Regions from separate parts of the Homo sapiens genome. Here all the other regions are reported to be linked to region 4. Evidence: microRNA targets listed by miRTarBase, many of them from high-throughput screens and not tested one by one. Region 4 holds a microRNA gene; each other region holds the end of a gene's coding sequence.

Region 1 (7,000 bases), not on the chromosome of region 4:
CCAAACTGCTAACAGCACTACTATACTAATCCTTGGGGAGGAGAGTGAGGTTCGGAAATGCTCAAGAGGCATTTTTCCATATCCGCATTTTGTTTGTTGTTGTTGTTTTGTTTTGTTTTTTGAGATGGAGTCTTGCTCAGTCGCCCAGGCTGGAGTGCAGTGGCACAATCTCGGCTCACTGCAAGCTCCGCCTCCCGGGTTCACGCCATTCTCCTGCCTCAGCCTCCCAAGTAGCTGGGACTACAGGCACCCGCCACCACGCCCGGCTAATTTTTTTTGTATTTTTAGTAGAGATGCAGTTTCACCATGTTAGCCAGGATGGTCTCTATCTCCTGACCTCGTGATCCACCCGCCTCAGCCTCCCAAAGTGCTGGGATTACAGGCGTGAGCCACCATGCCTGGCCTGTTTTTGCTTTTGTTTTTTTGCACGTACCACATGTAAGATAAAATAAGTTTTACAAATAGAATATGTTTCTCAAAAGGAAGCCCCTGCTTAGAGTCAAAAGTGTGCACGCAGGCTGGTACATTTCAACATGTGTTTAACCAGAGTCATCATCATCAAATAAGGAAGGCATCGAGCTGGGAAAGCCAACCACAGAAGCTCAGCCCACGGTCTTTCTCTCTCTCTCTCTGTCTGTACCACACAGTGCCTGAGGAACCAGCGGTCAGTGGGCTGTGAGCGTGGAGGATGGACCTCATCCACACACACCCCAAAGGAGTTTCTAAGGAATGGATCCTTGACTTCAGACTGTGAGATCTTTTCCTCCAGGACTCTCCAGAGGCAGGTCCCTGGCAAATGAACAAGAAAAAAAAAAAAAAAAAGTCCAAAATTTAGGCAATCCAAGCTGCACAGCCGGATCAGCCAAAGTCATTGATTTGTAAAAATGAAAAGAAAACAGAAAAAAGAAAAATGAAGTCTCACTGTCTCAGTTTAGCGAATCCCGTTGTGTCCACTCCTGTCCTCCAGAGGCGAGCCTCAGGAAATCACATAACTTTTCACTGAGGGGATCCAGGGGGTCTCCATATAGGGGGAGATGGAGGTTTCTAGGAAGAGCAGCAGGTGCTGGTATTTACAATGTTGAGCACAAACATTTGCAGCATGTTTAAAATTGTCTAGTAGAGTTCAAGTTGTGGATTTGCTTTTCCTTTTATTCTTATAACCTTCAGTAACTCCTCCTCTGGGAGTCAGCACTCCCATGCCCAGAGTTCACCCATCTGGTCATCAAACACTCAAAGAAGGGGCTTTTCTGGCCTTTTGTCTTGATGCTTATATTTCCAAATAGGCCCCCTCCCTTGCTTGCATCCACGTTGGTCAACTTGACCAAAACCTCACTCTTCACTCAAACAGGCTCTGAGAATGGACTTAGTGGCCAATTCTAGGTACATGAGCACTTCCTGTATCCCAGTTTTGGGAATAAACTGGCTGTATTTATAGAATGTGCTTTTTTTTTTTCAATTTCTCACTCTCTCTCCTATCTCTAGCAAGTCTCAGGCAAGATCTTTGATTTTCCTGGATGCCACCTGGAAATGCCACCCATTGTGTTTCTTTTCTGTCAAATGTAAACCCTTTAGATGTGAATGTACTGGTTTAATGATGCCATTATTCTGCCTGCCAGAACGCAGTAACCCAGTGTCTCACAGAGCACAAGGGGTGTGCCACTGGTGGTACACAAGATAATTTTTAAGTAGTTTCTAGGAACAACATTAAGTAATACCAAATCACAAAGAATGTTTCCCCTTTTCTATTCTTTTTTCATCCTGATTACAGCAAGGAAAAAGTCTCTGTTTAGTGCTAGCAGGTCCTTTACACCTTTCAGACACTATGGCTCTTTTCCCTTTTTAGCAAAGAAAGAGCAGGCCTCAGAGTCTTCTGTCTAGATAGAATTTAATGATATTGTTTTGTGTCATGGTATTTATTTTATTTATTACCTTCCATTTACAGCTTCCCACAGTGGGGGATGTGACATATTGTTTCTGTTCAAATAAATTAAGAAAAACAAGAGAACTCAAGAAAATATCAAGTAATTAACACACCAGATAAGTATATGTGGCAAAAGTCACTTCAAAGAATTAATGTCAGAAAGATGGTGATAATGAAGCAAAAGAAAGGCAGATTATGCTGGCCGGGCGTGGTGGCTCACGCCTGTAATCCCAGCAATTTGAGAGGCTGAGATCACTTAAGGTCAGGAGTTTGAGACCAGCCTGACCAACATGGTGAAACTCCATCTCTACTAAAAATACAAAAATTAGCCAGGCGTGGTGGTGCATGCCTGTAATCCCAGCTAATAGAGAGGCTGAGGCAGGAGAATCACTTGAATCCAGAAGGCGGAGGTTGCCGTGAGCTGAGACTGTGCCACTACACTCCAGCCCGGGGTGACAGAGCAAGACTCCATCTCAAAAAAAAAAGAAAAGAAAACGAAAGAAAAAGAAAAAAGAAAGGCAGATTATTCTAATTGAATGAATAAGAGGCTGAGAGTCAATACCTAGTTCCAACGCCCTTTTGTTTTTGCAGGGTTTTTATTGGCCACTAACTAGCTATGCAAGCTGATTTTAGGCAAGTTTCATAGCCTCTCTGTGCCTAAAATTCCTTCACCTGCAAAATGGGGATAAGAATGCCTGCCTACTTACCTCACAGTGCTGTTATGAGAATTAATTGTTGTAATAGTTGTGACTAACCATTGGCGGGGAGAATTCTAAGTACTATACCAATACAAATTTCAGCATTTTTTCATATACTGAACCCTAGCAAAAAAAAAAAAAATTCTGATGAACATCAGATTCAACCTGTCATTTTACCCGGATGTTGTGATGAGCCAGCACTTGTCCCAGGAGGACGTTGAATCAGGGACACGAAATCTCAGCACACAGAGATTCTAGCATCATTCCAATAGATTGGACCCTGATTTCTGTTTCTGACATCCTGTTTTTTGTTTGTGCGTGTTTGGGTCCCTGGTCTTTTACCCAAATCAAATGAAAAGTGTTGCTCAGAGGCAGAATAAAAATGGTTTTAAGTAAGCCTGTGTACCACAGTGTGTGAATTGTGTTTTCTTGGGGTTCCCCACCTTCCAGAGATTTCCGTAACCAAAATAAGCTCATCTAGTCCAGCATCAGTCCCCAGGGAAGAGCCCAGAGAGGCCAGAGGTGGCGCTAGAGAGGCATCACTCTGAACTAATTTATGGCCAGAAATGTCCCTCTATGAGGCACTGAAAATGTTGGTCCTATTAAAGTAAAAAAATAAAATAAGAAAAATCTTGTCATTAAATGTGCTCCTTGGGGTCAAGAGGGCCACTGATTTTTGTTGGGCGTCCCCCAGGTCCTAAGCTCTAAGAAGGACAAAATGGTTTTTGTTGGGATGATGGGCTTGTCCAGAGCTTCCTCCAAAGCTAAGACTGCCCCTGCTCCACTCGCAAAAGCACAGTTTAAAAAGAGATTGGTGGCCGGGCGCGGTGGCTCACGCCTGTAATCCCAGCACTTCGGGAGGCCGAGGCAGGTGGATCATAAAGTCAGGCTAGCGAGACCATCCTGGCTAACACAGTGAAACCCAGTCTCTACTAAAAATACAAAAAATTAGCCGGGCGTGGTGGCGGGCGCCTGTAGTCCCAGCTACTCGGGAGGCTGAGGCAGGAGAATCGCTTGAATCCGGGAGGCGGAGGTTGCAGTGAGCCGAGATCATGCCACTGCACTCCAGCCTGGGCGACAGAGTGAGATTCCGTATCAAAAAAAAAAAAAAGGTGTATTATCAACCAAGAGACTCCTTCATCAGCCAGTTACAAAAACTGGCTAAATAGAGCAGAAAAAGTAGAGTTTACCCTCACAAGACGGAAACTTCCAGGGATAGCTTCAGAGGCAGCTGGATCCTGGTGCGCAGGGTTTTTGGGAACGTGTCCCTTTCCAGGTCTCAGCCCCAACTTGCTGAGTTCATTTTAGTTTAATAGGGACAATACGACTGCCAACAGCTTTGGACTTTTTCCTACCAGCCTGTGGAAAGACAGTGTTTCTTCCCTAATAGCTCCAGGGGGGAAAAATGGTTCAATTCAATATAATGAACAACTGATACAAACCAGAAACCGACCTATCAAAATGGATACCAGTCATTAACAAACAGGTGTGGCCACTGTACCAACATAAATGGATGCTGTGGCCAGGGGTGTGTGGTGCCCTCATTGGCCAGGCTTGAAGTCAGGATTCAATCACTGGAACTGAATGTGAGGTCAGCTCCACTCAAACCTTATAGATTGAGGGTGCGGGAAGGATGGTTCCCCAAAGGAAAACCAAAGTACTCTTACCAGAAGAAGGAGAGAGATTTGCTAGGCAAAAAAACAAAAACAAACAAACAAAAAAAACAGCGTCCATATTAAGCATGCTGCTTCTTACTATACCTTCCATATGCAGGGCAAAGTAATCTAATGGCTTTTCTTTTTCTTTTCTTTTTTTTTTTTTTTTTTGAGATGGAGTTTCACTCATTGCCCAGGCTGGAGTGCAATGGCACGATCTCTGCTCACTGCAACCTCCACCTCCCGGGTTCAAGCGATTCTCCTGCTTCAGCTTCCTGAGTAGCTGGGATTACAGGTGTGCACCACCACACCTGGCTAATTTTTTGTATTTTTAGTAGAGACTGGGTTTCACCATGTTGGCCAGGCTGGTCTCGAACTCCTGACCTCAGGTGATCCACCCACCTCGGCCTCCCAAAGTGCTGGGATTACAGGTGTGAGCCACCACACCCAGCCTCCTCATAGCTTTTCAATTTCCCCGTGGTGTTGTCACTTTCATCCAGCTCCTTCTCTGACCAGTATTTATAGAGCACCTGCTCAACCACAGAAACTGGGCTGGTGGAAATTCCAGAATGTTTAAGAGAGACCCCTGAGAAGGTGGCAGTAGTCTAGTGGGGGGAACAGACACACACAAACAATGAGAAGGAAACATGAGAGTGCCCAGACAGAGGCATAAACAAAGTATTGTGCCATCACTTTGCAGGAGAACACACTGGCTGTACTAAAGGGAAGGAAGACAGTCCCTGTCCTACCATTCTTCGCAGTGCTGAGGCCAATAGGGCTACAGCTCTTGAAGTTGCCCTGTCTCTGCCCACAAGTTATGGGCAGAAACAGATGCAGATATAAAATCGCTGGCCTCAGCTCCTGGATCAGCAAATTACCTTTGGCCTACAGCAGGACAGCTGCATTCAGCAAAACAGCATGATGCACATATCTTGATACGTAACCCTAGATTCAGGCTTCTAAATATAAGAGACAGTTCTGGGCCACCAATTACCAAAAAAAAAAAAAAAAAAATCTTGTAAGATAACGTTCATACTCATGGGTTACAACCAATTCTTAAAAAATACTCACGAATATTGAATATTTAAGTCTGGGGAATTGCCCTATAAAAATATGTCCCTGCACCAAAACACTTTGAATTCTGGTTTGGACAAGCACAAAGAGAGGCAGGCATAAAGATGACTCAGGCATCACCTACACTTGCTGGAGAAGCCACAGAAAGAAGGAATTCCCTTTCCAATACATTCATTCATTCATTCCAGTAGACATCTATTTATCAGGGGTCAGGAGAGGGAAGTATGAAGTTGCCTCTGTGCATTGCCTGCATGAGGCATCAGAGAGTTTCATCTCGAGTACCTGTTCCAAACCTCGGGTGAGCAGCCAGTCAGACCTGCAATGACCCGGTCACGGCGTTCATCTCTCTTCCTGTCCCAGTGTAGAATTTCCCAGTTTGCACCCACACTGGTTCACTGATGCACCCAAGCTGTCTGCTCCTGGAACTGTGACCAAGTGTTTACTCCCCCAGGTCACGTGGAATCCCATGCATGGGGACTAGTTGTACTAGTTGTACTAGTTGGAGTGAAAGTATTGGGAGGAACTCATAAAAGGCCAAATTCTGCCTATATAGAAATGGCCTGATCACCCCCAAGAAAGAGGACCTAAAGCACGCCTAGAAGGGAAGGTAAATAAATATTTCTTGAGCCATTACCAAAGCTCATCTAAACAATTACAGTAGCTTTTTTTTTTTTTTGAGATGGAGTCTTGCTCTGTTGCCCAGGCTTGAGTACAGTGGCATGATCTTGGCTCACTGCAACCTCCGCCTCCCAGGTTCAAGCAATTCTTCTGCCTCAGCCTCCCGAGTAGCTGGGACTACAGGCTAGCACCACCATGCCCAGCTAATTTTTTGTATTTTTAGTAGAGACGGAGTTTTGCCATGTTGGCCGGGCTGGTCTCGAACTCCTGGCCTCAAGTGATCCGCCCACCTCGGCTTCCCAAAGTGCCAAGATTAAAGGCATGAGCCACGGCACCAGTCCTACAGTAGCTTTCTTACAGGGCTCTCTGGTATAACAACCATTACAAACTTAATGAGTTAAAACAACCCAAATTTATTATCTTGCAGTTCTGGAGGTCAGAAGTCTAAAACGGGTCTTGCTGGACCAAAATCAAGATGGCGGCAGGGTTGGATTCCTTTCTGGAAGTTCGTAGAGAGAATCCCTTTTCTTGCCTTTTCCACCTTCTAGAAGCTATCCACATGCCTTGACTCAGGGCCTCCTTCCATCTTCAACGGCAGCAAAGTCACCATTTACTTATTTATTATCTTCTTTATTATCTACCTCCTCCCCTTAAGATGCCTTTTTCACACTGCATCTCTTTTGTTCTGACTCCTTTTCCTCTCTCTTCCCCATTTAGGGACCCTTGTCATTACTTTGGGTCCACCTGGATGATCCAGAAAAATCTCCTTATTTTAAGGTCAGCTGATTAGCAACCTTAATTCCATCTGCTCCCTTAATTCCTCTTTACCATGTAACCCAACATATTCACAAGTTCCAGGTGTTTGTATGGGGATATCTTTTGGCGAGCATTATTCTGTCTACTACATCTTGCTTTGACATCCATTCGCTTAAAAAACACACACAGCAGCCAGGGTTATCTCACAACCTAGACTTAATCACATCATTCCTCTGCTGAAACCCAACCCACACACCCAGTGACCACCCACGGAATTA
Region 2 (7,168 bases), not on the chromosome of region 4:
TTGCAGCAGAAAACTTACCCATTAGAACCCAATCACCAACCACTCCAGGTTTTGACACCAAAATGTCAGGTTTTGAAGAGAAGGCGAGGATGAAAGAAAGACACACAGAGATGGGGCAGCTCAAACAGCAACACAGGAATATTGCAGAAACTTGTGGAAGTGGGGGAACAGCTTAATGCCAGATCCCACCACTGCTTACAGCCTGGGGTACTTACAGGTATGGGTGGGAGGGATCTGGGCAGTATGGCTTGCTGCCAGGCAGGATATTGATAAGATGTTCTTATGATCAGGTGGTTTGGCCCTTTTTCTGGTGGAATATCATTGTGGTGTTCCTTAGAACTTTGCCAAGCAAGATATGATAGGGATGTTTCTTTAGTTGGGCCTTTGTCCGCCTTGTGGACAGGTGGTTAGGCAGGATGTTTCTCACGGCCTGAACCCCCATGGGATGTTTCACTTTGACCAAGGTCTGCAAAATGGCAAAGAACTTACAAAATGGTGCACTTTGGACTAACAGGTGACCCTACCCATGCTCCTCTTCTTCTTCCCCATAGATCCCTACCCTATGATTCAACCTTGTTCTTCTCTGGCACACACCCCTTCCTCCACCTGCATTCCTTCTCATAAAGCCCCCCTTGCTATCCAGTCTCTATCCTATTCACCCAAAATAATGTCTTTCTGGCCTCTCCCTGTTTTCTTAACAGATGCAGGAGACACCAAACAGGGACTTAGCCCCCGAACCGAGTTTGAAAAAGATGAAAACGTCAGAATATTCAACAGTATTAGCGTTTTGCTACAGGAAAGCTAAGAAAATACATTCAAATCAACTGGAGAATGACCAGTCCTGAGAGAACTCCATCAATCCAGTCCAAGAGGAGGAGGACGAAGGCCTAGACTCAGCTGAAGGATCTTCAAAGCAGGATGAAGACCTAGACTTACCTGAAGGCCTAGACTCAGCTGAAGGATCTTCAAAGCAGGATGAAGACCTAGACTTACCTGAAGGATCTTCAAAGCAGAATGAAGACCTAGGCTTACCTGAAGGATCTTCAAAGCAGGATGAAGACCTAGACTTACCTGAAGGATCTTCACAGGAGGATAAAGACGTAGAATTACCTGAAGGATCTTCACAGGAGGATGAAGACCTAGAGAAAAAGCGATCATCTAGGTCAAGAAATGAAATCGAAATTTCAGAAATTACAGAAATTCTCCAAGGAAGGAGCCAGATAAATAAATATTCTGATTTCATTTTCCTCCTTCTCCAGTGATCTGCAGGGACCTACCATTCACTAAAACTAACCCGAAGCCATAGAACAAGACAGCTTATTAATACAGTCCATGGTTTATATGAGTAGATTTTTAGCAGCACAAAGTAGAGTGGAGAATGGATCTGGTGAAGCAAATGGACGATATATTGAGAACACTGAACTCAGAGAAGCAAAAGCCTCAGGAGAGATCATACTGTCTTTCTTCAACTCTCTGATATGGTGTCATGTGGAATCAGGCCAGACTTACACTTTTTGAGTGCCATACCTATGATTAGTAGGACCACAGTAGGGAACTTAGGGGAAAGTGGCATAAACTCCCTTAGGCAGTTGATGTGGATGAGTTTGTCCTGGAAAAGCTGTTTACAAAATGATCAACTGTAATTTTGCTCTTTTGGAGCTTGGAAAACAGTACCCCAAAATGAAGACCTCAGGAGCAAAAGTCTTTCTCTAATCTTCTCCTACCCTCCTGTCTCTCAGTCTCATTCTCCCCCAAGGCTAGCTATAGAAACTAGAATCCTTCTTCCCCAAGGTGTGTCATAGAAACTAAACCATATTTTCCCCAAAGCCAGCAATAAAACCTAAAAATATGGCCAGGCGCGTTGGCTCACGCCTGTAATCCCAGAACTTTGGGAGGCCGAGGTGGGTGGATCACGAGGTCAGGAGATTGAGACCATCCTGGCTAACGTGGTGAAACCCCGTCTCTACTAAAAATACAAAAAAAAAAAAAAAATTAGCCGGGCGTGGTGGCACGCACCTGTAGTCCCAGCTACTCAGGAGACTGAGGTAGGAGAATGGCGTGAACCCAGGAGGCGGAGCTTGCAGTGAGCCCAGATCACACCAGTGCACTCCAGCCTGGGTGACAGAGCAAGACTCCATCTTAAAAAAAAAAAAAAAAAAAAAAAAAAGCTAAAAATATTACTCTCATTTTCACTCCGCTTTTCCGTGTAAAAACTAGCCATAAAGAAACTGACTGTAGGTCAGAAGGCCCCCATTTCAGAGGGGTCCCTGCCCCACACCCAGAAGGAAGAATGCTGCTCAAAGAAGCCAAGAATAATCTAGACATACAGGCCTTTCTGTGTTTCCCCACTCAGTTCATTAGTATTAGTTTATACCCTTTTTGTCCAATCCTATTTCTGAGCCTCTATCCATACTTCCTTAAACCTAGGCATAAAATGCACAATTTCCCCTGTATCTTTGGGTCTTCATTCTGAAGGCTCCCAAATACACCCCTTAAACAAATCTCTATACCTCTTCTGCTATCAATCTGGCTTTTGTTGGTGATATCTAGTGAGCTCTCAGAGGGCCTTGCCCGCTACAGCTCTTTCCTGTGGGTGTGAATATCTCACCATGCCTGTTACTCTCTACATCAAAATGTCTAACACTTGCTACCATATTTCCCTGGTGTAAAGGAGAAGGTTGTTGGGTTTTTTAAGCTTGATGTCATTTGAAAAATAAGAGTTATGTTATATAAAAACTTGAACAGTGGCAAGGATGTGTGGTAGCTTGACTGCTAATTTCCTGAAAGTTCAGATTTGAACTTGTTTGCTGTGGTATCATCTGGAAATAGCATGGAGCCTGACACACAACAGGCAATTAGTAAATACTTGCTGAATGATGGCACAAGCATGGACAGTGAAGTGTAGCATGGTGATGAGAAAAAAACACTGATAGTGACTCATATTATATAAGGTTCTAGCCCCAGCTGTGGTTATAACTAAAAATATAATCTTGAGCTAGTTAAAGAAACACCCTTTAAATGTGATGTCCAAGTACCTAATTCCATTAATTTAGATGTAATTGCTAAATGTTTGGGTCTATGTAGCACATTAATCTAAGTGCAAAAACATCCAAAATATCCAAGATAATGGAATAAGTCTCTCTAGTTGAAAGTTTAATACAATGCTGAGGCTGATATCTACTCAAAAAAGTTGAGGATGTTATTTACTCAAAAAAATTTCTAGGCATAGATAGTAGATATAATGATCTTAATTATATTATTATTTTCATTTTACACAACCTTAATTTTTTTCTCGAGTTTTATTTTAGCTACGGGGGTACAAGTGCTGGTTTGTTACATGAATATATTGCACTCAGATAGTGATTCTAGTACCCAATAGGTAGTTTTTTCACCCGTGCCCTCCTCCCTCCCTCCCCCATCTAGTAGTTTCCAGTGTCTATTGTTTCTACATTTATGTCCATTTGTGCTATTTAATCCCTGCTTGTAAATGAGAACATCTGGTATTTGGTTTTCTGTTACTACATTAATTCACTTAGGATTATGGCCTCCAACTCCATCCATGTTGTTGCAAAGGACATAATTCCATTGTTTTTTATGGCTGCATATAATTCCGTGGTGTATATGTACCGCATTTTATTTATGCAATCTACCTATTTATGGGCACCCAGGTTGATCCCATGCATTTGCTATTGTGAATAGTGTGGTGGTGAGCACACGAGTGCATGTGTCTTTTGATATAATGATCTATTTTCCTTTGAGTATATACCCAGTAATGGGATTACTGGGTCAAATGGTAGCTCTATTTTAAGTTCTTTGAGAAACAGCCTAATTTTTAAAAGACCTCAAAAGATAAATTTACTTTAGTAAACTTTAAATCAATGTACATTTTGGCCAGGCGCAGTGGCTAACGCCTGTAATTCCAGCACTTTGGGAGGCTGGGGTGGGCAGATTACTTGAGGTCAGGAGTTTGAGACCAGCCTGGGCAACATGGCGAAACCCCATCTCTACCTAAAATACAAAAATAATAGCCGGGCATGGTAGTGTGTGCCTGTGGTCTCCACTACTCAGGATGATGAGGCAGGAGAATTGAGTCGAAAGGGAGGAGGTTGCAGTGAGCCAAGAGTGAGCCACTGCACTCCAGCCTGGGTAACAGAGTGAGACCTTGTCTCAAAAAATAAATAAATAAATAAACAAATAAAATAATGCACATTTAAATGAAGAATATATCTTTGCCTTGAAATGCTTCACTAAATGTGAATAACACTACTAATAATACTAATGATATCTAACATTTTCAAATAATTACGTCTAACATTTATTTAGCATTTCCTAAATATCAAGCACTTCATATGCATAAGGTAATTTAACCCTCATAAAAAGCTTATGATTCTGGTAGTTTTGCTATCAGCATCCTTAGGGAATGAGAAATGGAGGCCACATAGCCAGCGGTGAAATAGAGATTCAAACCCAGACAGTCTTGAATACAGAGGCTGAATTGGTATCTATTCACTATAAATATTATATCTTGACTTTTCCTCAGAAAGCTCATGGTAAATGCACATGTTTTCTGCCATATAAATTCAAAGATACCATGATTTCATACTGATATGGTCTGGTTCTGTATCCTTACCCACATCTAATCTTGAATTGTAATCCAAATTGTAATACCCACATGTTGGGGGAGGGAGTATACATAAAGAGGGTGGGGCCCCGGGCTATACTACTGCTTGACATCAACATGGAAGAGGTAACTGGCAAACCGGAGTTGCCTAACACAGCTATGGATCAACCAACACCAGACATGCAACAACCAACCACAGACACCAAAGGAAAGAAGAATGAATATCCCATATGAACTCAAGTCCAGAGACAGTGGCAAGGTCAGATCAAGCTGCCCATGTTCTTTCTCTGTCCCCTTAACTATATTACCACTTCCAAGACTCCTACCTTAACCTTATGTGGTATGTATCCCCTCCTCAGCCCATAACCAGGTTCAGTAAACCCTCCTTCCTATGCATTTCACATTCTCTTCTCCTAAATCACTGCCTTATGGGAAGAGGACCTGACAGCACCCTGTTTCCCTACCAGGTGCAGGAGATAATCATAAAAGTAAAAGTAGCCAGTAGTTTTTCAAGGGTGTTCAAGAGAAAAATCTCTAAGAACTACCATCTCTTGAAGCAATCCTACATCAGCCAAAGGCCAAAACTATTCGGTCATTATTACAGGCCCAATGAGAAAGTGAATCAAAATCAGGGAGACTAAGACTAAGAAAACCTGGGGTTTTCTTCGAGTGAAGTGTGCATCCTGTGACTGCAGAGTGAAGAACAGACCTCTCAAAAAGTTCTTCTGTCTCCAGAGGTATGGCTGCTGAGAAATGACTAACAATGTAGAGGTTAAATCTTCCACAGTGATGATTAAAATAAAATCAACAAGTTGTAAAAGCCCCTAAGTTTTCAGTTGAATTGTGTCATCCATATGTGTATGTGTCTCTGCAAGTTATCTGATGGTGGAGAAAGAGAAAGGAAGCAAGTGGTGTGAGAAGGGAGGCAAGAGGGGTTCTGCAGGGTTAGGGGCCAAACTGGCAGGTCCACAGCCAGATATTGAGAATAAAGACTGGGTCAAGACTATACATGAAAGACAATTGCTAATCCAAATGCAAGAAGGAAAATGGCATGGTATTGCTTCTGTGTGTGTGTGTGTGTGTGTGTGTGTGTGTGTGTGTGTGTGTTAATAGTGGCATTGGTAGTAGATGTCAGGGTCTAGATCACCAAAACCCAAATGAGGTTAAATGCCAGCTATCTGCAATTTTCTGGACTCTTGCTCAACCTGCTCTCTTCCCATCTCCAATCTCAGTTGAAGAGGTATTTTTCCTTCAGTCTGAGGCAAATCCCATTTGTTACCACCTCTTCAGGGAATTTAATTCATAAATGTTCTATCACCTGTTTCTTCAATCTTGTCTACCAGCTTCTTATTCCTTCTTGTCAACATTTGTTTTTTTATATATATAACTTCAACTTTTGTTTTAGATTCAGGGGGGTACCTGTGCAGGTTTGTTACCTGGGTACATTGAGTGATGCTGAGGTTTGGTGTACAAACAATCCCATCACCCAGGTAGTGAGCATAGTACCTAATGGTTTGTCAACACTTGCTCCACTCCTTCCCTCCCCACTCTAGTAGTCTCCAGTGTCTATTGTTCCAATCTTTATGTCCATGAATACCCAGTGTTTTGCTCCTGCTTATAAATGAGAACATGTAGAATGTAGTTTTCTGTTCCTTTGTTAATTCGCTTAGGATAATGGCTTCCAGCTGCATATGTGTTGCTGCAAAGGATATTATTTCACTCATTTTTATGGCTGCATAGTATTTCATGTTATATATGTACCACATTTTTTTAAATCCAATCCACCATTGATGGACACCTGGATTGATTCCATGACTTTGCTATTGTGAATAGTACTGTGATGATCACACACGTACGTGGGTCTTTTTGGTAAAACAATTGATTTTCACTTGGATATATACCCAGTAATGGGATTGCTGGGTGGAATGGCAGTTCTGTTTTAAGTTCTTTGATAAATTTCCCAATAGTTTTCCATAGTGGCTTAAGTAATTTACATTCTTACATTCAAAAATGCTCAGTCACTCCCACTATTGAACAAAATGCAAAACAAGCAAAGCAAACACACCCTCCCACCACCCGGCGTCTCCCTCTAGGTAGTAACCTACTTCTCTGTACAGCAGCTCTTGTAGATTCTAGTTGGAGATGTCTAGAATCTAGGAAGAGTACTTTATACAATGTTGTCTTCCAATACTCAATTAACATTACTTCCACAGTTAACTGTAGTCAACATTTTGCTTCTCCCTTACCAACGACATGCTCCTAGCAAAGCTATCTGTGTTTTGTGGTGACAGTAATTGAGGTTAGAAAGGTATGGAAGAAAGTTCTGTGTTTCACAAAAGGTAGGGATAATACCTGATACAGACTAGCTCAGTAAAAACTTTAGGAAGGAAGGAAAGAAGAGGTATTGTTGGGAAACAAATCGAATTTTAAACAAATCTCCTCTCAACCCAGAAAGCCTTTCTACGAAGATAGAAGAGAAAGAAAACAGTTTTATTATTGGATAAACATTAAACCAAAATGTGGTGCACATCACAAGCAATCCACTAA
Region 3 (7,168 bases), not on the chromosome of region 4:
ATTAAAAGCATCAACTCTGGAGCCAAACTGCCTACATTTGAATCCTGGATGTGTGACCTTGAGCAAATTAATCTATAACTCAGTTTCCTGATCTGTAAAATGGGGATAATAATAGCACCTATCTCATAAGGTTCTTGTAAAGATGAAAAGAATTTGCATTTGTGTCTGTATAGCACTCAGAATAGTCTCCAGCACCTAGTAAACGTGATATAAGTATGTTAAATTATAAAAATGTCCTTGAAGACAGACACAATGTCTTGCTCATCTTTATGCTCCCTCAATGCCTAGCACTCTGTAGGCACTGAATAAATGCTTAAATGTTTACTGAACTGACAGCTATTACACTAGTCCAAACAAAAGGATTAGTGCCCAAACTAAGATAACAGGAATGGAGAAAGGGTGATAGGTATGAGACATGCTTAGGGGGAAAATAAATCAACAGAATGTGCTGCATGATTAGAATGAGATGGGTCATAAAGAAGATAAAGTTCAGGTTGACAGCTAGGTTTCTCACCAAGATAGGGAATATAAGGGAAGCAAGAAGGAAAAAGCAGAGTTCCTGGCAAATTTTTAATAACAAAATGCTTCATTCACTGCTTAATGAAATTTAAAAGTGCTTTAAGAGCTTTTAAGAGCACCACACTTTTAAAAAATAATGTGAACTCTGATCAACCATGACAGAAACCTGGCACACAACATCAGAAAGAATTTAAGCTCCATGAAGACACGGACTTTTTCTGTTTAGTTTGCTGCTTTATTTCTAGCACCTGCAACAGTGCCTGATACATGGTAGGCACTTGTTATGTATTTTATAAATGAATGAAAAAATGATTAAGGTAAATTTGTGCCTTCTATGTCATGCAAATCTAAAGGAATTAAATAAGCATCTACTGAATCCTGCACTGCTTCAAATTCCTATAGGGAATACAGAAGAAATATAATACTTTTCTATCTCCCCTTCCCTCATGAATAAATTACTGTTTTATAAATTATATTTACATAGTAACTTACTATGTAATGCAGTACAAAACATAGCTAATTTCTGAAGAAAGATCAGCATACGCCATATATATACATATGTGTAATATATATATATTACACATACATACATAGTATGTATATTATATATATAATACTATACAGCCCTGAAATATGGGCAGGGTTTAGATTCTGTAACAATACATCTGATGTAATATGAAAGGTCACACACACAAAAAAACAAGAACAAACTTTGGTAAAGTGGGGATCGACTCTAGAAAAGCCAGATAGAGATGAAGAGCAAATATAATGCCAACTTTCTCTGAAGTCTTTCCTTATTTCCCCCATTCCTAAACATAATTAATTGGTTCCCTTCCCAGAACTCTGAACGTTATTGTGTCCCTTCTGTTAAAGCACTTATTCCACTGAATCATTACTACTGGTATATATACCAATTCCCCTGGCAGACTCTAAGCTACCTGAGAACAGGAATATGTTATTTGTGTATCCCACATGCCTGGCATAATGTCAGGCACATAACAAACATATACATGTGGGGGTAAAAGAGGGAATGTATATATTTTTAAACAGTCACTAGATAACTTTGTAGGTGTCAGGGTACAGGGATAACATGAAATAGATTTAAAGATTTGCCTCAGATTTTACTGTAGTTTTGAGTCTTATGGAAACTAAAACTAGATAAATAAAACTTCATCTCCAGAATCCAAAAAACTTGATTGAGCCTCAAATTATAAGCTTTTTATCTAAACATTCAGACAGTGTTAAAAATATGTTTTGCAGGTTTATTATTAACAATCTTTTGATACAGACAAAAGTTGAAATTATAGAATCTGAAAAATCAGGCAAAACAAAGTCTTAACTAAAATCCATCTTTTTTACTGTGATTCAAAAAACAAAAGTAAGAATTTATATTGAGGAAGATCAGTGTACTACAGGAACATGAAAAGGTGTCTCAAGGCACACAGGAAAAATAGGTATTCTGAAGCCAAGAACATTCTACTCACTTGAAGTAAGCCCTTCAAAACTCTGGTATGAAATCTCTGTCCATATTATGTGCTATACTGTACAAAGTATACTGATAACAACCCGATAAAAAGGAAAACATTTTAAACTAATGAACCATATGACCTGATCATATGTTATCGTATAGTCTTCCAGCTAGAAAAACAAATCTCAGAAGTAATCCATTTGCTTCTATACAACATATTTTAGACAATCTTCAACTAAAACTAAAACCACGCTTTCTCAACATAAAAAGCTTTCAGCTAAAAAATCGTGAGGTGTACTTAAAATCTAAAAGGAACATATAACACGACTTTTTGGGTGCTTAATAACCAGCAATATGCCTCTCTCTAAAACAGTCTAAATCAGCTAGAAAAGTAGCACTGCATTTGTAGCCAACAGTGATCATAATTAAGCTAAAGAAAGACATGTTTTTCTTGTCATCTTTATTCAAGTATTTCACAGCAGTTATATTACAAATTACAGTAAATGTTCAAATTCCAGAATTCAAAAATTAAATAATTTACTTCAACTAATGTCAAATGAAGTCAAATGCAAAACATCAATTTAACACAATTCTAAATTAAAACTACAAACCCAAAATAGACCATAGTTGATGAAGTCTACTTAAACTACAAAGTAGACATACATGACTGAAACCAAATTGGACTCCCAAAGTCTAAGTAACCAGATGTACAGAATACAAAAGATGCAGGTACAAGCCCAAATTCAAGCTTACAATGTGATTACAAATAATAATTATAATAACAATGGCATTCAGCTACGGGACCTGACACTGAAGATACCTACTGAATAGCACCATAGCTGAACCAACTTAATCAAAAAAGGGAAGAAATTACCCACTCCCTAAAAATAAAATCCAGTAAACCTACAAATACATTGGCTTATGAGAAAAATCAAGTCATGAAACAACATTAAAAAAAAAAAATCACAGGTGAGATTCAAGCTCGAAAACACAATTAACTCCACAGCCATCAGTTTCAACCCTAGTGCGGTTCCATCATCTTCAAAAAGCCCCCAGGGTCCCCACAGCTGAGCATGAATTATTGCTGAGCTATGCTGTGATACATATTTTACTCATCTGAGAGCAAGGTTTTACATAGGAGCTTATCTTTATAATGCTCACAATAGGAAATAAGAACAGAGGTCAATTTGTACATATTTTTGCCAATGCTATACAGCAAAAATGAAAAACTTACAGAAAGGTAAACAAAATTGAGTCCACTTTTTTAATTTCACAAGCTGCTTTAAACTATAGAACCACCAGATATCTGTAAAATAAGCAAAACTGGTAAGTGTGTTTTTTTAATTGAGGGAAGGAGGGCCAGAGGAGTTGGTACAATTTCAGCTCATTGTTCTCCCCTTGGCATTAGATTGACTTTCTCTTTAAGACCTAAACTGTTCAAAGTGGCAGTTCCTATACTGAGGTTGCCTCCAATTTCTCCATCTACATTACGGTTAAAAAAACAAACAAACAAAAGCAACTTGATCTTTTGGAAGCATTTTAATGCTGAAAATAAATACATTTCCCTTTTCAAACTCACTGATGGCTAAAATCTTAATTAATTGTACAAATTTAGTAACCTACTAAGAAACATGTGCATTTTTTTTTCCTTTCACAAGTGCTGCTGTTACTTGAAAAGAATGCTTCTGAATTAGAATAACTGGAATAAATATTTAAAAAAAAATAGTGCAGCAAGAACCTGAGACTTGCAAAAAACCCTTTTACCAGAAACTTGCTACAAAAAATCTGCTACATCTTATTTCATCAAATCTTTAAATTCTGTAACAATTTCCATCAAAATACAAAATGCTAATGTATTAGACAATAAAATAGTTTGAATCGGTATGATGGTAATAAATACTAAAGAAAGCATGAAAATCCTCCCAATAATCAAATTAGAGGTTTCAAATAACCTCCCCTTTAAAATGGTTCATCGTTAATCGCACTTGCCCACCTTAAAAATACAGTGTGTCTACATGGGTAGCATCTTGACTTGTATGACTAACTGGATATTACAGAAACTTCACAGACTAGGTACAAAGAAAACACGTGGCATTTAAAAAAAAATTAAGCTAGAATTAGAAGGCGTTAGATGTAAATGTAAATGCAAAGAAGCACTTTGGATTACTGCAGTAGGCTATGGCCAAAGTATGCTTTCTGCACACTACAAAGAGCCAAAGACAAGGAGACAAGTACCTTAGCTTCAGGATGTAAACGGTGGCAAAGTGATTACAAGACTCTGTAAACACTGTTGGTAACTAAAATACAAAAAGCTGAGGTAGCTCAGAATCTCTGCAGTAGTCCAAGACCATTCGCCCTAATTAAAACCCAAACTACATGTGTTGCATATATTGGAAAGACACACCTGCAGCTAACGGCTACAATGAATGAAGATACCAAGCCAACTTGCTGGCAAAATTTTCTTTTTGTTTAAAAATCATCTGATAAAAAAAGTCACTGCATCCTTTGCCTCATTGCAACTGCCTAGACTGTGTCTCCAAATTTGTAGAAAGTTTTTGTAAAACTAGTAACCCATAATTAATTTCAGATACATACAATTCACAGAAATCACTCAACAAGATTCAAAATGGTTTCCAATCAAAAAGAAGAGTTGTGAAGGTAAGCTTAGGAGATGGGATTTAAACATTAATACTGTTATTCAAGGACCATACCAGAGCTCGTTTGCAATTAAGCATACAGAAAATGAATTTTATGGAGCTTCTGATGAATTCCTCTCTTTTCTGTCCATTTGGCAAGTCCTGGCTTTAAAACAAAACAACAATTTACTACATATGAAAACCATTTTTCTCTGGGAACTCAAACATGAATAACTATTAAATTGCCACTGACAGAAGAAAAAATGGCCACTATCTATTTATTTTCTAGTCATCATTGTTGGCAATACCAAAACGTGTGCAGTTTTGTTTTTTGTTTTTTTGTGTGTGGACTGTGTATTATTCTTTGTTGTTATTCATGTTTCTTAAACCAAAACAGACCTTACAAGAAAACTTACCATTTTAGTATATTATGTGGCTTACTGGGTGTCTTGATTGAGCTTTGAGAATAAGACAGGCATTTCATACCCAAACACTGGTTGTCTCTTAATGACATAGAGTATCAAAACTTATTTTCAAGGTTGTGACCAAAGAAATATTTCTAATTTATTTGCTTCAAACAGCCCATCCTTTTAGCCTTATCTTCCTCAAATGAATAAAAAGGCACGTTAAAGGCAGTTCTAAAGAGCCTGACCTAATTTCATCCAGTTTCTTCAGCTTCCCACCAGAACAGACCATAGCCAACTCTAAAACAGGTTTCAGTCCATTACCCAGATGGGGGAAAAATATGATTAAAGGGGTAAAATGGAGGAAAAAAAAATAACAAGTTGCCCACTGTTTAAACAATTCAACACAGTTAGAACTGCCCCCATCCAGTTTCCTCCTGTTTGCTGGTCTGCTCCCTAAGAGAGGAGTCTCCAAAAGAGAGTGCACAAAAAGAGGAGCAGAAGCGAGAGCAGTTTCTGTAGCACCAAAATCTCCAAGCTGTGGGGTTGTATTTTTTATTTGTGGAAAATACAACATGTTTCTGAAGTTCTGTTTGGTTCTTGTAGGCTGGTTGGTTTCAGGTACCTGAGACAATAGCACCAAATTCAACAGAGAGAAAGAATGAGTGAGAGAGCACTTTACACCAAGGCTCTGCACATAATTGGTGCAATTTGAAATTGAATGGCTCAGAAGACTGCTCTGTGAGGAGCAGATTGGAGAGGATAAACCACTCATCTTGAAAAGTTCATAGGAATGTCTCAAACATATGAACTGTTCTTTCCATCTCCTATAAAAGGAAAAAAAATGCATGTTATCTATTAAGGGAAAGACAAAAGTGTTCCTCATTACGGAAGAATTCACTTTAAATTTTTAGGGAATGAATTTGAGATACAGGTTAAACTTTGAATATTTTCCTGATTATAATACCATAGGTAATTAAGACTATCTCCCCTAGATACTTCCAAGTACCTCCTATTTTATATTTAGGCCAATAAGGATGATGATGATGGTCACACTCAACAAATAACTAACTTATTATGCCAGTAATATCAGTATGAGGTATGATATGAGTAATATGAATATAAGGATGATGATAGCAACACTTAATGAGTAAGTTATTATGCCAGATATTTACTAAGAGATTTCTATATATAAAATACATAAATATAAGTAAATATTTATATTTATATGTATGCATATATATATAATTTATATATATAGTTTTAACTCCCATAACATTGAAGATTGAACAAACGTATTACTATCAGGTCCATTTTACAGATAAAGAAACTGAGGCACAGAGGGGATAAATAATTTGACAGCTAACAGGTGGCAGTCAGGATTTGAATACAGGCAGCCTCACTCCAGAGACTGAGCCCTTCCTTCCTCATTATATTTCACTAACTCCCAAAGCAAAATGAATGCATTCAGTATAGTGAAACTTATGCCAAAAAGCAGAATGCATTGTGTTCCCACTTCTATTCACTCCAACCAGAGCTGAAAAGACAGGGTTAAAAAAGAGCCAGAATGAGTGGCTTCCATCACTACCACCATGAAAGCCACTCACTGCTGATTCTGTTATCAATCCCTTCCCTCCCTAAACTAGGCCTCTAGATTATTAGGATTCCACACTGAGATGTTTCACTGGTGAGGAGTATTTAATGCATTCAAGCTAATAAAACTGCAACCATATGAACAAAGAAGTTCTAGAATTAAAAAAAATGTGAATAACTCTACCCCGCACATTTTATTCAGGTGGGCAAATGTCAAATACATCTAAGACACTTGCATTTTTTCCTTCCCTTTAAACAGCTCCAAAGAAATTCTATTCTACATCTCTGCAAAACTAACAGGCTGTATTAACAGATCATCATCCGATCAACAAGTTCTTCCATGTGGCCAACAAAAATCACTCCTGCTAAATGTTTTATCATATATTGCCAAATAAGAAAAGAAAATTACACATGAAAAATAACTATATCCTTTACATATAAATCTTTAATATACTAAAAATATTCTTTGAGAGCAGAGACTTTGTCTTACTCATTTTTTGCATTCCAAACACCCAGCACAGCATCTGGCACTGCAGGTACTCAATAAA
Region 4 (7,168 bases):
GATTGAGTGCTTTGGCATAAACAGGTCAGGTACAGAAAGCACGGCATTTGAGAATTATCCTCTGCAAACATGACTTGCAGGCATAGCCTGAGCCCACTCAGAGCCCATACCCAAGTTGTGCTTTCTTAAGGCCACAGCCTCCTTCTGAGAGCTGAGGAAGATAAGGGTGGAGGACAAACAACTTGGGTATTCTTTGAGGAAATATAAATCACATTTAAGTAGTCGCTTGAAAATGAGTAAATTCACCTATTTAATGTGTAGTATTCTTGGAGCTGGGAAATTTAGCCAAGGTGGGCACCACTTGAGACAGTGTTTGCTGTGGAGCAACATGTGTGTCTGGCCGGTAAACCTGCAATAACTCAGTGCGCAGACATTGCCAGGCAAGGCCTTTCTGGGAGAAATGATCCAATGAGGGGAAAAAATACTTCAGTTTTGTTGAGAGATGATCTTAATCTGTTTGAGCTGCTATATAAAAAAATACCATAGACTAGGTGGCTTAAAAACAATGAATGCTCATTTCACAGTTCTGGAGGCTGGGATGTTCAAGATCAAAGCGCCAACAGATTTAGTGTCTGGTGAGGTCCCGCTTTCCTCATCCATGGTGCCATCTAGCCGTGTCCTCACTTGGCAGAATGGATGAGGGATCTGGATGGAGCCTCTTTTATAAGGGTACTAATCCCATTCATAATGGCTCATCCTCATGACCTAATCACCTCCCAAAGGCCCTGCCTCCTAACACTATCACCTTGGGGGTTAGACATTTAACATATGGATGTTGGGGGGAATAAATCTTTAGCCTGTAGCAAAGATAATGAGATCAGGTGTAGGTGATTAAGTGACATCTGGAGAAAGAATTATTAGCTGCTAAGAAAGATGTGTTTGTGCCTGTGTGTGTGCACTTGCACATGTGTGGATGTGTGTGTGTGCATGTGCTCTGTGTGTGTGCTTTGTACACAAGGCAGAGTTTGCAGTCTGTGAGGGGGCCAGCAGGTGTTCAACCCCGCCTGGCTCAGGCAGCTTTCGCTTCAGTTGGCTTTTATCTCTTCCTATGTGCCCTCAGCCCTGTGTCCCAGGGAGAGGTTTAACCAAGTCTAGAATGTTCCACTCTGCTTAGATGCCACTTCAGAGGTCTTAAAACAGAACCTTTGTTTTAAGCAGAGACAGTCCTCTTTTTGATACGTGGTTTTCAGGTGCTCCCTTTAGGAATGGCCGCCACCCACATATCATGGTTCCTCTAGTGGTTAAATCATGATGAATAGGCACAGAGAGCTGATAATTAAGGTAGGAAAGAGTACCATATTTCTCTTCTGCATTATCCCTAGTGAATTACAATTTTTTCTCCCAACTGCAAGTAGAAATGATAATCACCCTTAGCTCCACTTCCACACCCTTCTCAGAAATTTGGGTAATGCATCCTCATCTTAATTATCAAAATACAGGGTTATCATTTGCAGAGAACATGTGTTTTGTGTTTGTGGGGTCTGGAGAGAGTGATCATACAATTTCTAATTCAAAGCAGAATACTCTTGAAAGTAAATCAGGACTTTCCTGTTGAAACTAGAACAGGAAGTCACCTTAGCAGTGGTAGATCTTTGAATTCGTCTCCTCCTGGTTCTGCGGAGAGCCATGAGAGACTAGAACACAATCACCAGTTAGGATCAATACACTTATAAATGCAGAGGGTCTTAGCATCCATTTGGGTGCCAGCTTCCCTTGTGTGATTGGTTACTGGTGTCAACGGAGATTGTATGGGAGAGGAACTAAAGAATGCAGGCTCGGCTTTTCCCAGAGGCAGCAGTGCGATGCATGGGTCACAGAATATGCCAGAGAACAACGAGGCCAGTCGCTCACTGACTATGGAAGATGAGTCCATTATTTAATCACTCTGGCCTTCGGTTTTTCAGCTCTAAAAATGAGAATATTCCTTTCCTCAATGATTATTGTTATGATTCCCGGAGATAACGTGCATGAAAGATTTTAGTGCAGGCCTTTCTTCCTTCCGTTGACAACCCAGAATGTTGCTTGATGCACAGGGGAAATAGAGTGATCAAGAAGAGCCTTTATAAATGAGAGTTGATGTTGAGTAATCATTTTGGGTATTATCAATACCCATGGCCATAACACCCCCACCATGTGGAACAACACAGGGAACACGACTTCTTACTCAAGCTACAACAGGAGAATTCTTCCTTGGATCTCTCTTACACAGACAACATTGTCTGTTTTTCATCAAAATGCTAGAAATGAGAGCTCAACATTTGTAAGCTCTTGCTTCGTTCAATAAAGATTGTGTATGGGAAATCCACTGCTTCTCTCCCTTCGTAGATGTAGGAATCTGCCTCAGACATTGTACAAATGGGCAGAGAGGGGAATGGAACTGAGTCTTACCCATTACGTTTAGGATTTCAGGGCTGCAGGTCATCTGTTTACCTAAGATGGAGAGGCCAAGTCCTCTCTCATGGTAGCTTTGAAGCTGGTGTCAGGGAAAGGTCAGTGCCTGTGAACAGTGATGGAAGGTGTGTAAAGGAGGAGGCAGGGTTTAGCACAAGGGGTAACTAAATCTTAACTTCTGGGATACTGGGTGGTGGTGGGGTTACTATTTCCAATTTATAGCAAGATGTAAGTGATATCAGCTGGAGGACAACTTTACTGGTCTATGTGGGTGTATTAGTCGGTTCTCAAGCTGCTAATAAAGACATACCTGAGGCAGGGTAGTTAATAAAGGCAAGTGGTTTAATGGACTTACAGTTCCACATGGCTGGGGAGGCCTCACAATCATGGCAGAAGGTGAAGGAGGAGCAAAGTCACATCTTGCATGGTGACAGGCAAGAGAGAGCATGTGCAGGGGAACTCCCATGTATAAAACCATCAGATGTCGTGAGACTTATTCACTATCACAAGAACAGCATGGGAAAACCCTGCCCCCGAGATTCAGTTACCTCCCACCCACTTCCTCCCATGACATGTGGGGATTATTACAATTCAAGATGAAATGTGGCTGGGGACACAGAGCCAAGCCATATCAGTGGGATAGATATCATTTGGAATATGGTTGCCTTCCATTCTGATCTCATTCTATCAAAGTTGGTAGATCCTAACATGGTGACCCAGCAAGAGTCTCTTTTCAAACTGGCTGTCCTCGGGGGTAGGAGCAGAGCCAGGGCAAACCGTCAGGGATGCTAAGTAAGGAGCTTCAAGGGGATCCAAGGCACCTCCTTGGACTCAGACATGCTTGGGACCGCGTTCGTAGGACAACTTTTACTGTCCATTGCCACAATGAAACATGGCAGTGACAGATGTAGGCCCTCAGTGATCACAGATCTATATGGCAGCAATGGTTCAAGTGCAGAAATGACAACAGTGTTTGTGATTTTACCTTTTTGTGAAGCTGGGTTACTGGGGTTTCTGTCCTGGAATCTCTAAACAAGTAACCACAGGGTAGTTGCTTGGCTCTTGCCTCAAGTGAACCAGCCAAGAGATCTCGTCCAACACTGGTATAGCCTGGCAGCAACTGCTACTTCCAGGCTGTGTCTCGAATGCCCTGCTGGGCTCCATGTGTATCTGGGAACATGGTTTCTGATCTACAAATCTAAGCCCCTAAATACACAAAAGCGCTAAGGCAAACCATATGCCTTAGGCTCACTTTTAAACCTCTCTGAGCTTCAGCTTCCTCAGCTGTAAAAAGAAGCCATGATCACAGGCATGTTTATGCACTAAATCAAATAATGAAGCTCACAAGTTCAGCCCTGGTCATCACCATTCAAGACTCTGAAGTCTATCAAAGCAGAATTCATGTTCTCTGGTTGCATTTTCCATCAATGGAGACTCAGAAATATTTATTGAATAAAACATCAACTATGACAACATATTTTACAGTGTAATAGTGAAAACATCATTCATCTGATGACATGCTTCTTTTGAACCATTTTGGGATGGTTCTGATATTGTTTGTAACAAGAAATAAAGATCCGAGGATGATCAAGTGAGCATTCAATTATTCTTACCTTCATTTAAAAAATATATTTTCAATATTAAGGAATTTGTTGTTATTGTTATTTACAAAGCAATAAAATAAGGTAAGAAAAATGGAGAGGCCTGGGTTGGTGATTTGGTCACCAGGCAGATTGAGAATGGAAAGAAAAGGGAACAGGGTAACCATGTGACCAATTTGCTTCTTGGAAAAGGGACCAAATAGGACCCAGAGAGGGGCTTGGTCAGGCTTCCTGGTCACTGCCAGTGCTGAGACATTAAAGATCCAGGCCCCACGGAGAACCAGGGCACCTGGACTTTGATCTTGCCATAATGGTATGCCTCCATTTAAGAACTAGGTCAGCTGTCTTTCACACCAGCTGTGTTCTTCATGCTTAGGGCAATAACATGTATAAAGTAATGGGTATTTTTCTAGTAGGGTTAACACACTTACTCAGGTTTATTCTTCTAACTTGCCTGCATCCAAACATTTTTTTTTTTTTTTCAAGATAAAACCAGCCTGTCAAACTGTGCAGTTGACATTACTTGGTAGGATGCAGAAAATATCTGAATTAGAAATGGGCCCATACAGGTTCCAGTGGGAATGGCTTTCTCAGCAGGTATGAATCACTGCTATTAAAAATGTATTCCGTAGGTAAATTGTTAGTTATCATATTCATCCACTCTTACAGAAAGCCAATGTTATCATTTGGGTCCATTATTAAGACTATCATTATCATAGTCAGTTTAGTAACCTCCTTTTACATAACATTGGATTTTTTGTGGGTTTTCAAGTCTCTTCCAAACTGAATCTCACAATCTAGGTTTATTTTTGAGGCCACCTTGCCTGAAGGCTCGAGGATGACAGGAGTGACTTCCGTCACTGCCATATTTCTTCTACACTTGAAGATTGTTTTCTGGGATGTTGCTGCAAATGGCAAATGTGTTTGATGCCCTAATGTTTAACATAAATCAGGATCATGGATGTGCATAGCCCCCTCCCGTTTCTGTAAAGTATTGTAAAGGGACTCCTGTCCTCAGAGTGCCAGGCCTCACATTTACATTCTGGACAAACTGGGCTGTCTGCTTGAAAGGGCAGATACCACAGGTTGGAGCAAACATAGCTTCTGAAGAAGATGTAATGCATTTCTGTCCCAGTAAGTTGTGCCTGATTAAGATCTTCTCATAGCTGGGGGCAGTGGCTCACGCCTATAATCCCAGCACTTTTGGAGGCCAAGGTGGGCTGATCACTTGAGGTCAGGAGTTCGACACCAGCCTGACCAACATGGTGAAACGCCATCTCTACTAAAAAAAAAAAAAAAAAAAAAAAAAAAAAAAAAAAATTAGCCAGGCATGGTGTTGCATGCCTGTAATCTCAGCTACTTGGGAGGCTGAGGCAGGAGAATTGCTTGAACCTGGGAGGCAGAGGTTGCAGTGAGCCAAGATTGTGCTATTGCACTCCAGCCTGGGCAACAAGAAACTCTGTCTCAAAAAAAAAAAAAAAAAAAAAATCTTCTCATGACCCCGGGTGGGTGGCTGGGGTGGGGTTGGTGGAGGGAAATAAATATGAAGAAGAATGGTGAGACAACCAGTGGGCATATACTGTGTAGACTACCAGAAAGCTTTGGAAATGTGTCAACCCTAAAGCATTGCTATTTTTAAATATTTAGTTGTATTTTAATATTTAGCTATAAATGAAGAACTTGGCTTGGACACAAAAATAACAAAAAATTAATATCTAAGAGTCATGTTCTCTGTGGAATAATCTTAGGGCTGGTCTGTCTTTACACATTTATTGATGATCCAGAAGAGGAAGCACACAAGTTTGTAGATTAGCCTAAGCTATTCTGGATAGAAAATACACAGGGCCCTAGCACAGCCTCGTGGGCAGAAGAGTTCATCTCGTGAGAATGAGCAAAGAGACACTTAAGAAAAAAATCTGATGCCCAAAGCCTTTCATATAGGTGACCATTGTACCCACAGTAATGAAGCAGAACTACTGTGCTCTGGAAGCCACTATGCCCACCGTTGTTCATGAATAAAAGAAACATGGTAGATATCCTTATGCATGTGTGCACATGCAGCACACCTGGCCTGGCACAACCTGCTCACACCTCTGGGAGTCACCTGGGTGTTGGCTGACGCAGCCTGGCCTCGGCTGAGCTGACTGTCAACCCCGCAACTGCCTGTCCCATCATGGACCAGAAGCAGAGCCAGGGATGAGGATGAACGCTCTAGTTGCCTGTGGCAGATAAAGAATCAGTCATCTAGCTGGGAAGGTAAAGGTTGAGAGGAAAGCCAGCCAATGTCTATAAAGACACATAGGAAATGGGAGAATAGAGCCAGTGAGGGACATGCAGAGAAACACCTAGATTTTGGATTCATTTACACATTCAGCAAATATTTATTGGGCATCTATGGTGTACCAGGCGCTGCACTGGACTCAGAGATATAACAATCAGCCAAATGAACAAGTCTGGACCTTCAGGGACCCTCGTGGAGGTGTTACCTACAAGTGAGGAAAGGAAGACCAAAGTGTTTGTTAGTTAGTTACTATGCATCAGGTACTGTGCACCTCAGAGGCCACCTGCAGTCAGTCTCCCTATATGCCAATGGCTGCCAGCATCTTCCTGCTTTGGGGAATTCTCAGCAGCCAGTAGCAGCTTGCATAGCCTGAGCATGTGGCAGGTGGGACTTGATGCAAAATCCATACCCAGGAAAAATCTTCAAGCTATAGGGGTGAAAGTTGGTGAATGGGTGTCCCAGCCTCCCTGCCCTTTGGTGGGACAATTCTGAGGCCTGTGCCATTAACTTCGGCAGTACCTTACTCATTAATGCACCCTTTACTGACATTTTCTCCTTCTCTGTCTCACTTACTACTTGGGGAGATTGTCTTCCAAATAAACTACCTGTATCCAGGTCCTTCTTATAGATCCACTCTGGGGAAAGGCAAGCAAAGAAAATACATTATAAGCCTGTTGTACTATTAGGGATGGTGACTTCCAGAAGCTGACTGTGATAACCTTTCCTCGGGCTTCAGAAGAGGCTAATGGAGAGTTGAAGGGAGAAATCAGGAAAGATGGTCTCCCCTCAATATTCTGACATGGGTTAATAAGGAGGCACTGGTTCTTAAATTGGGATCTCGATGATGCTGGACTAGCAGCAGCAATATCACCTGAGAACTTGCTGGAAATGCAAA

The links. The annotated mature microRNA hsa-miR-8058 reads CUGGACUUUGAUCUUGCCAUAA and lies in region 4 at 4,282-4,303, shown strand. An mRNA with a match to its seed (bases 2 to 7 or 8) in the 3' UTR can be bound and repressed. Matches are read on the target gene's strand: a 7mer-m8 pairs with bases 2 to 8, a 7mer-A1 pairs with bases 2 to 7 and ends in A, and an 8mer does both.
Region 1: miRTarBase lists TMEM233 as a target of hsa-miR-8058. Seed matches in the 3' UTR shown: 8mer at 821-828.
Region 2: the mRNA of SPANXN1 is a reported target of hsa-miR-8058. Seed matches in the 3' UTR shown: 7mer-A1 at 863-869.
Region 3: the mRNA of ATAD2B is a reported target of hsa-miR-8058. Seed matches in the 3' UTR shown: 7mer-A1 at 2,666-2,672.

Annotation. Positions count from the first base shown.
Region 1 is chr12:119,640,052-119,647,051 of GRCh38, forward strand. TMEM233 (transmembrane protein 233) reads left to right here. Exons shown (of 3, transcript NM_001136534.3): 3 at 648-3,024. The coding sequence ends at 654. All of the region lies in intron 1 of PRKAB1-AS1 (PRKAB1, TMEM233 and CCDC60 antisense RNA 1), which reads right to left. Among named protein-coding and RNA genes, the nearest start is that of PRKAB1-AS1, 25 kb to the right of the region's middle.
Region 2 is chrX:145,254,970-145,262,137 of GRCh38, forward strand. SPANXN1 (SPANX family member N1) reads left to right here. Exons shown (of 2, transcript NM_001009614.3): 2 at 702-1,239. The coding sequence ends at 845. Among named protein-coding and RNA genes, the nearest start is that of SPANXN1, 11 kb to the left of the region's middle.
Region 3 is chr2:23,746,234-23,753,401 of GRCh38, forward strand. It overlaps ATAD2B (ATPase family AAA domain containing 2B), which reads right to left. Exons shown (of 28, transcript NM_017552.4): 28 at 2,431-5,854. The coding sequence ends at 5,813. Among named protein-coding and RNA genes, the nearest start is that of ATAD2B, 180 kb to the right of the region's middle.
Region 4 is chr16:82,684,707-82,691,874 of GRCh38, forward strand. MIR8058 (microRNA 8058) reads left to right here and starts at 4,225; the gene lies at 4,225-4,313. The region is part of intron 1 of CDH13 (cadherin 13); the gene reads left to right.